2 linked regions of the Homo sapiens genome follow. The protein of the gene in region 1 interacts with the protein of each later gene in a pairwise test. Each region holds a gene or a part of one and is shown in the gene's direction. Other genes may lie near its edges.

What was found. Proteins that work in one complex are often made in the same cells at the same time.
Region 2: the proteins of RGS8 (region 1) and UHMK1 interact in binary tests that used the Homo sapiens proteins (3 or more experiments, as listed by UniProt).

What each region holds. Positions count from the first base shown.
Region 1 is NC_000001.11:182,649,863-182,653,616, reverse strand, and holds part of RGS8 (regulator of G-protein signaling 8), read left to right. Parts: intron 1-3,754. UniProt on the Homo sapiens protein: Regulates G protein-coupled receptor signaling cascades, including signaling via muscarinic acetylcholine receptor CHRM2 and dopamine receptor DRD2.
Region 2 is NC_000001.11:162,507,778-162,511,531, forward strand, and holds part of UHMK1 (serine/threonine-protein kinase Kist), read left to right. Parts: intron 1-3,754. UniProt on the Homo sapiens protein: Upon serum stimulation, phosphorylates CDKN1B/p27Kip1, thus controlling CDKN1B subcellular location and cell cycle progression in G1 phase. May be involved in trafficking and/or processing of RNA.

The sequences.
Region 1 (3,754 bases):
ATTCAAGCAATTCTCCTGCCTCAGCCTCCTGAGTAACTGGGATTACAGGCGCATGCCACTGCACCTGGCTAATTTTTGTATTTTTAGTAGAGATGGGGTTTCACCATGTTGGTCAGGCTGGTCTCGAACTCCTGACCTCATAATCTGCTCTCCTCGGCCTCCCAAAGTGCTGGGATTACAGGTGTGAGCAACTGCGCCTGGCCCTACCCAAGTCTATCTTAAAAAAAAAAAAAAATCTCTTTCCTCGCTTCATGTTTCCTTCCAGCTATGCTGTCTTATTTCTCTACTTTTTTCTCTACCAAATTTGTTGCAGGCATCATCTGAATGACTGTTTCCACTTCATTCAGTCTCATTCACCACCGTACGTACCATGGGACACCTAGAACCCCATCACACCATGAAAACTCTTCCTGCCAACGCTTGCTGAATCTACTGACTGCTTCTCAGACTGTATCTAGCTTGACCTCTGGGCAGCACTAGACACAGTGACCACTTCCTTCTTGAAATAATCTCTTCCTGGTCTTTTGTAGTGCTGCAAAATTCTTCTGTCTTTCTGGCTCTTTCACAGGCCTCTTGGTGTATGCTATCCTATAAGCAGGTCTAGTCATTTTCAGCTGTATTACTATTAAATGCTTGTCTTAATGAACTACTTCCAATTACTCAAGTAAACTTTCTTAATTCTAGGCCTTCATTCCTGTGGTTCCCTCTTGCTGAAATTCTCTTCTCCTTCCTCTCCTTCCTTCCCTTGCTTAGCTGCCCTCTCCTCTACCTCCCATGTCAGCTAAGAAGCCTCTTCCTCCCACAGCTCTTCCCTTCCCTCCTCAGGGCCGGCAAAGGCACCCCTCCTGGGTCCTTCATGACCCCTCTGCTTTCTCTATCATGTAACTTATCACACTACATCATAATCATCATCATTATGTTTTCTTGGCTCAAACTTCCCCTTGACGGCATGTTCTGTGAAGTCACGATTATATCTGCTTTTAGCACATAGCATAGCCTGAGTCACATAACAAGTGAATGAATGAATGAAGATGACATTATTGCTATGTTGGATTGAAGGTGAGTATACCTTATATGAAGTTTTCAATGCTACATATTGTTAGCTATGTGAAATCGGGCAAGTCACTTTTCTTAGCATTGGTTTCCTCATCTGTAAGATGAGAAGTAAAGCAAGGCTCCTGGGAGCACTTTGCAGAAGTTATCTCTACTCATCCGCACAAAGACCCAACAGAGCTGAAACCTGGATTTAAGGAGGTGATGCCTGTACCTCATCTAGCACAGGGCCAGACAGTTTCCTTAGCAAGGCTATCTTTACAAGTACCATGAAGGAAGGCAGAAAGATAATATTCTTTCCTTGTTCATAACTGCATTCACCTTGCTCATAAGCACCTGTTTCTGTTTGGTTAAAAATTAAAATCTGACACAAACAACCTTAAACTCTCCCATTAGAAGAATATAGTCTCTTCTGGTTTAAAACCAACAACAGGCTCTTCTGAGTTGCTTTTCCAAGTCACTTTCCAGTTATTCTTTTAGACAAATTCACAGTCTTTTAGGGCCCCCTCATTCTCCTCCTCATTCACTGAATACAGTGGAAAATGTGGTAAGATGGAGGCAGAGAGGGAACCTCTGGCCTACGGACCCTCAGGTCCTCCCTGTGTCCATTGATAGTGAAATCGTGGACTGGTCACTGCTCAGAGTCCCCCCCTTGCTAAACCAGCCCTTCACTTAGTTCTCAAGGGCACTGGGTCTCCTTCAAGGAGAAAACCTCCTCCAAGAGCACTGAGGCTTCCACAGCTCCAGCTGTTTTTCCCTCCAACCTCTGCCTGTAGCCTCTGCCTCAGGGGTCCCTCCTACAAGCAGTGGGGATCTCCTGGCAGGCAGGCTGGCTGTCTAATCCGAGTTCCCTCTAGAGTCTGTGGAGACTTCTGGATCTTCTCCATGGAGAGGACAGAGTGAGGGAGGGGTGACAGAGTTTCCTTGAGAGATTTCATGGGCAAGGATTTTATGATTTTGTTCTCTGACTTACTATGGTTCAACTTATGATTTTTCGACTTTAGGGTGGTGTGAAAGTGATATATATATTCAGTGGAAACAGTACTTCAAATTTTGCATTTGGATCTTTTCCCAGGCTAGCAATATGTGATGTGATACTCTCTTGCAATGCTGGGCCAAATAATCTAACACAATGTCTGTTTTATAATAAAGTGCTGAATAGCTCATGTAATTTACTAAATACTGTACCAAAAGTGTTCTGAGCACATTTAGGGTAGGCTCGGCTGAGCTGTGATGTTCAGTAGGTTAGGTTTATTAAGTGCATTTTTGACTCTTGGTATTTTCAATCTATGATGGGTTTTTCAGGACATACCTCCATCATAAGTTCAGAAGCATCTGTACTTTGTTACATTAGTAGTTGTTTTAAAAGACATGGCTGAATTGAACGAATGATTCTCAGTCCATCTCTGCCTAAACATTGCCGTGTCATTGTTTCATTTTGATTTTCAGTTTATCTCGGGTTTCTATTCCCTTCCTCCAGAGTTTTGAATCCAATGTAGGAATGGGAGCAGGAGGTGCCCTGAGCAGACCTCTCATTTGAGTCTAAATTACGTTACTCTCATCTTCTTTTTTGATACAGGAAAATTTTATTTTCCACCTGCCTGACAGGAAGTAACCTTACATTATATTCTACTTTCTCTATGCTTTGTGGTTTAGAGTTAAGGTAATCATGTGTCCTGGGTTTTGCCTGTGGTGGTCATGGTTTATAATTATTGTCTGCATGTAATTAACAGTAATGCAGCCTTCACTCTCAACATGACCTGACTTGGATAAGTCTCAACCTCTAGGGTTCAGGTGATCCTCCCACCTCAACTTCCCGAATCGCTGGACACATGCCACCACAGCTGGCTAATTTTTGTATTTTTTGTAGAGATAGGGTTTTGCCATGTTGCCCAGGCTGGTCTCGAACTCCTGGGCTCAAGCAGTCTGTTCACCTCAGCCTCCCAAATGTTGAGACTACAGGTATGAACAACTGCACCCGGCCATTCCTACTTTTTAAAATGACTTTAAGCTCAGGCTTCCAAACTTAAATCTCCTTGTGACTTCAAGCTTAGTGTTGGGAGTCACCCGGAAACCTTTCTCTTAAGTTCCTGGCTCTTGCAAGTAAAGATGTGGCTTTTTTGATACTGTTCTAGTATAGACATTAAAATATGTATTTTGAAAGACAAAGATATACAATGACTTTTTTATTCAGAGAAATGAAAACATTTCAAGAAAGTAAAAGTAAGCATTGAATATATCAACAGCATGGCACCAGCAATCCATCAAATGACCCTGGCCAGTGCACGGTCCTGGTGGATAGTGGTGGACGTCAGATGCCCAGGTCATCCTGTCACCTAGAATTAAGAGTTGTTGGCCGGGCGTGGTGGCTCACGCCTGTAATCCCAGCACTTTGGGAGGCCGAGGCGGGTGGATCACAAGGTCAAGAGATCAAGACCATCCTGGCCAACATGGTGAAACCCTGTCTCTATTAAAAGTACAAAAATTAGCGAGGCGTAGTGGCGCACGCCTGTAATCCCAGCTATTTGGGAGGCTGAGGCAGGAGAATTGCTTGAACCCGGGAGGCACAGGTTGCAGTGAGTCGGAACTGTGCCACTGCACTCCAGCGTGGCGACAGAGCAAGACTCCATGCCCCCCACCCAAAAAAAAAAAAAAAAAGAGTTGTTAACATTTTGTTCTTCTGGGGGATTTTAGAAAAGAA
Region 2 (3,754 bases), about 20 Mb from region 1:
GGGTTTCACCATGTTAGTCAGGATGGTCTCGATCTCCTGAACTCGTGATCCGCCTGCTTCGGCCTCCCCAAATGTTGTGATTACAGGCATGAGCCACCGTGCCCCGCCTCTTTTTTATTTTTAAAAATATCCTCCTTTTTGCCTACTCTTTAAGACATTATTTGTTATGTTTATTCATCCTTGTATCTCTTATAGTGTAATTTTATTTTATGAAATGATTTTTAAAATGTCTAATTCTTTCCTGAGTTCTATTACCTTATTTTTGTGATTTTCAATTTTTTTTCTGTTGCTCTTTCACATCTTATATCGTTTTTTAAAAATGTCTAGCTCATTTGAGTTTTTTGCAGGGGGAGGAGAAGACAAAGTCTCACTCTGTCACCCAGGCTGGAGTGCAGTGGCACAGTGCTCACTGCAACCTCCGCCTCTCAGGTTTTAGCGTTCCTCCCTCCTCACCCTCCTGAGTAGGTGGGCTTACAGGCGGATGCTGCCAGGCCCAACTAATTTTCATGTTTTTAGTAGAGACAAGGTTTCACCATGTTGGCCAGGCTAGTCTGGAACTCCTGACCTCAAGTGATCTGCTTGCCTCAGCCTCCCAAAGTGCTGGGATTATGAGCGTGAGCCACCACGCCTGGCCATTTAGCTCATTTTGAAATGGTAGGCTCACACCCATAATCCCAGCACTTTGGGAGGTTGAGGTGAGCAGACCACTTGAGGTCAGGAGTTCCAGACTAGCATGGCCAACATGGTGAAATCCCGTCTCTACTAAAAACACAATTTAGCTGGGCCTAGCAGCATCTGCCTGTAATCCCAGGTACTCTGGAGGCTGAGGCAGGAGGATCGATTGAATCCTGGAGGCGGAGGTTGCAGTGAGCCAAGATTGCACCACTGCACTTCAGCCTGAGTGACAGAGCAGGACTCTGTCTTCAAAAAAAAAAAAGTAGATTATAATGGTCATATCTTTCTGGCATACATTATCTGAGATTTATCATTTTGCAGTTTTTTTTTTGTACAATAGATACTTTTCTTTCTCTTCTTTTCTTTTCTTTCAAGGCAGGGTCTCACTCTGTGACCCAGGCTAGAGTGCCATGGTGTGATCACAGCTCACTGCAGCTTTAAGCAATCCTCCCACCTTAGCCTCCAAAGTAGCTGGGACCACAGGCATACACCACCATGCCTGGTTTATTTTTTTTGTAGACAAAGTCACACTATGATGCCCAGGCTGGTTTTGAACTCCTGGGCTCAAGTAATCCTCCTGCCTTTGCCTTCCAAAGTGCTGGGATTACAGGCGTGAGCCACCACGCACAGTCAGTTATAATCCTTTTTATGTTGCCCATTTTTATGTGAAAATTATTTTCCTAAACTTAAAGAAAATATACTTGGGATAACTTTTCTTATATAGGGCTCCCTCTTCTGTTGTTTTGTATAATATTCCCCAAAAAGTGGCTTTTTTCAGAGATCTCCTGGCTCTTCTCTTCTGCTTTTTTCTGGTGCCTCTCTCTCTCCCCTCATCCTGCTCAATTTGGATTGTGTTCCCAAGATTTCTTCTCACTGTGGGACTTTGCACTGAAAGAAAGCTTTGGCTGGTTAGTTTTAAGAGGTCTTAGTGTCTAGATTACTCCAACCTCTTATGATTTTACAAAGAACTGCTTGTATTCACTTAGTATTAGAATGTATAACCCCTTATAGTTTCAGCTGCTTTTCTCCAGCATCTTGCTGTGCAGTCCAGTGAGTACCTTTTGGCTGTTTGGGTTTATTTTTTTTCTGGTTCATCAGATCAATTGTAGCTTTCCTCTGCCTTCTTACACATAGATGCCAATATAGTGCAAATCTTACAACTATTGATAGTTTGGCACTATAGGTTTTTTTTCGTATGTGTGTGTGTATGATGGAGTCACACTCTGTTGCCCAGGCTGGAGTGCAGTGGCACGATCTCGGCTCACTGCAACCTCCGCCTCCCAGGTTCAAGTGATTCTCCTGCCTCAGCCTCCCCAAATAGCTGGGACTACAGGTGCACAGCACCATGCCTGGCTAATTTTTTGTATTTTTTAGTAGAGACGGGATTTCACCATGTTGGCCAGGCTGGTCTCAAACTCCTGACCTGAAGTGGTCCACCCACCTCTGCCTCCCAAATTGCTGGGATTACAGGCGTGAGCCACCACGCCTGGCCTAGTTTTTGTTTTTTAAGTGGCTTATTTTTACTTTATAAATGCTTACTTACAATAAGGAAATAATGGTCTTTTTATGCCACAAACACTTCAGTAGCTATATAGAGATACATTAATTTTATTAGACTATAACAGCATCTCGGTCTTCTTTTTTTAATGACATAAAATTGTATGTATCATGTACAACGTGTTTTAAAGTATATATACATAATGGAATGATTAAATCTAGTTAATGAACAAATGCATTATTTTACATAGTTATTTTTTGTGATGAGAGTGCTTAACATTCACTCCCTATGTTTTTCAAGAATCCAATATATCATCATTAACTAGAATCACCATGTTGTGCAGTAGATCTCTTGAACTTATTCTTTCTATCTAACTGTAATTAGGCATCTTTTGGCTTTGGCCAATGTCTCCCCAAACTCCTCTCTCCTCTAACGCCCCCACCCAGCCTCTGGTAACACCATTCTTCTCTCTACTTCTGTGACATCAACACTTTTTAGAATTCACATATGAGTGAGATCATGCTGTATTTGTCTTTCTGGACCTGGCTTATTATAACACTTAACATGATGCCCTACAGGTTCATCTGTGTTGAAAATGACAGGATTTGCTCCTTTCAGTGGCTGAATAGTATTCCATTGTGTATATATATATCATATTTTCTTTTTTTACTCATCTGTGTTTTTTGTTTTTTTTTTACTTTTTACACATCTGTTTTTTAATTTTTTTTTTAAGCTAACATGCAAGAAATGAACACTTATCTGTTAATAGATACTTAGGTTGATTCCATATCTTGTATATTGTGAATAGTGCTGCAACAAACGTGGGCCTACAGGTATCTCTTCATCATACTGATTTCATTTCCTTTGGATATATACCCAGTAGTGGGATTGCTGGTAGTTCTTTTTTAAAAATTTTTTTTAAGGGGCCTCCATACTACTTTCCATAATGGCTTTACTAATTTATATTCCCACCAACAATGTGTACGGATTCCCTTTTCTTTATGTCTTTTGTCTGTTTGATGATAGCTATTGTAATAGGTATGAGGTGATACCTCATTGTGGTTTTGGTTTTTCATTTTCCTGTTGATTAGCGATATTGAGCATTTCTCATATACTGTTGGCTATTTTTATGTGTTCTTTTGAGAAATGTTTGTTCAGGTCTTTTGCCCATTTTTTAATTGGGCTATTTGTTTCCTTGCTATAAAGTTATTTGAGCTCTTTTTTTCTTTTTTCTTTTTCTTTTTTTTTTTTTTTTTTTGAGACAGGGTCTCGTTCTGTTGCCAAGGTTGTAGTGCAGTGGTGTAAACATGGCTCACTGCAGCCTTGAATTCATAGGGTCAAGTGATCCTGGAACTACAGATGCATGCCACCACACCAGCTAATTTTTAAATTTTTTTGTAGAGAGAGGATCTTGCCATGTTGCCCAGGCTGGTCTCGGACTCCTGGGCTCAAGCAGTCCTCCCACCTCTGCCTCCCAAAGTTCTGGGATTACAGATGTGAGCTACCACACCCAGCCAAATTGAGTTCCTTATATATCTTGTATATTACTCCCCTAGCAGATGTATAGTTGGTAAATATTTT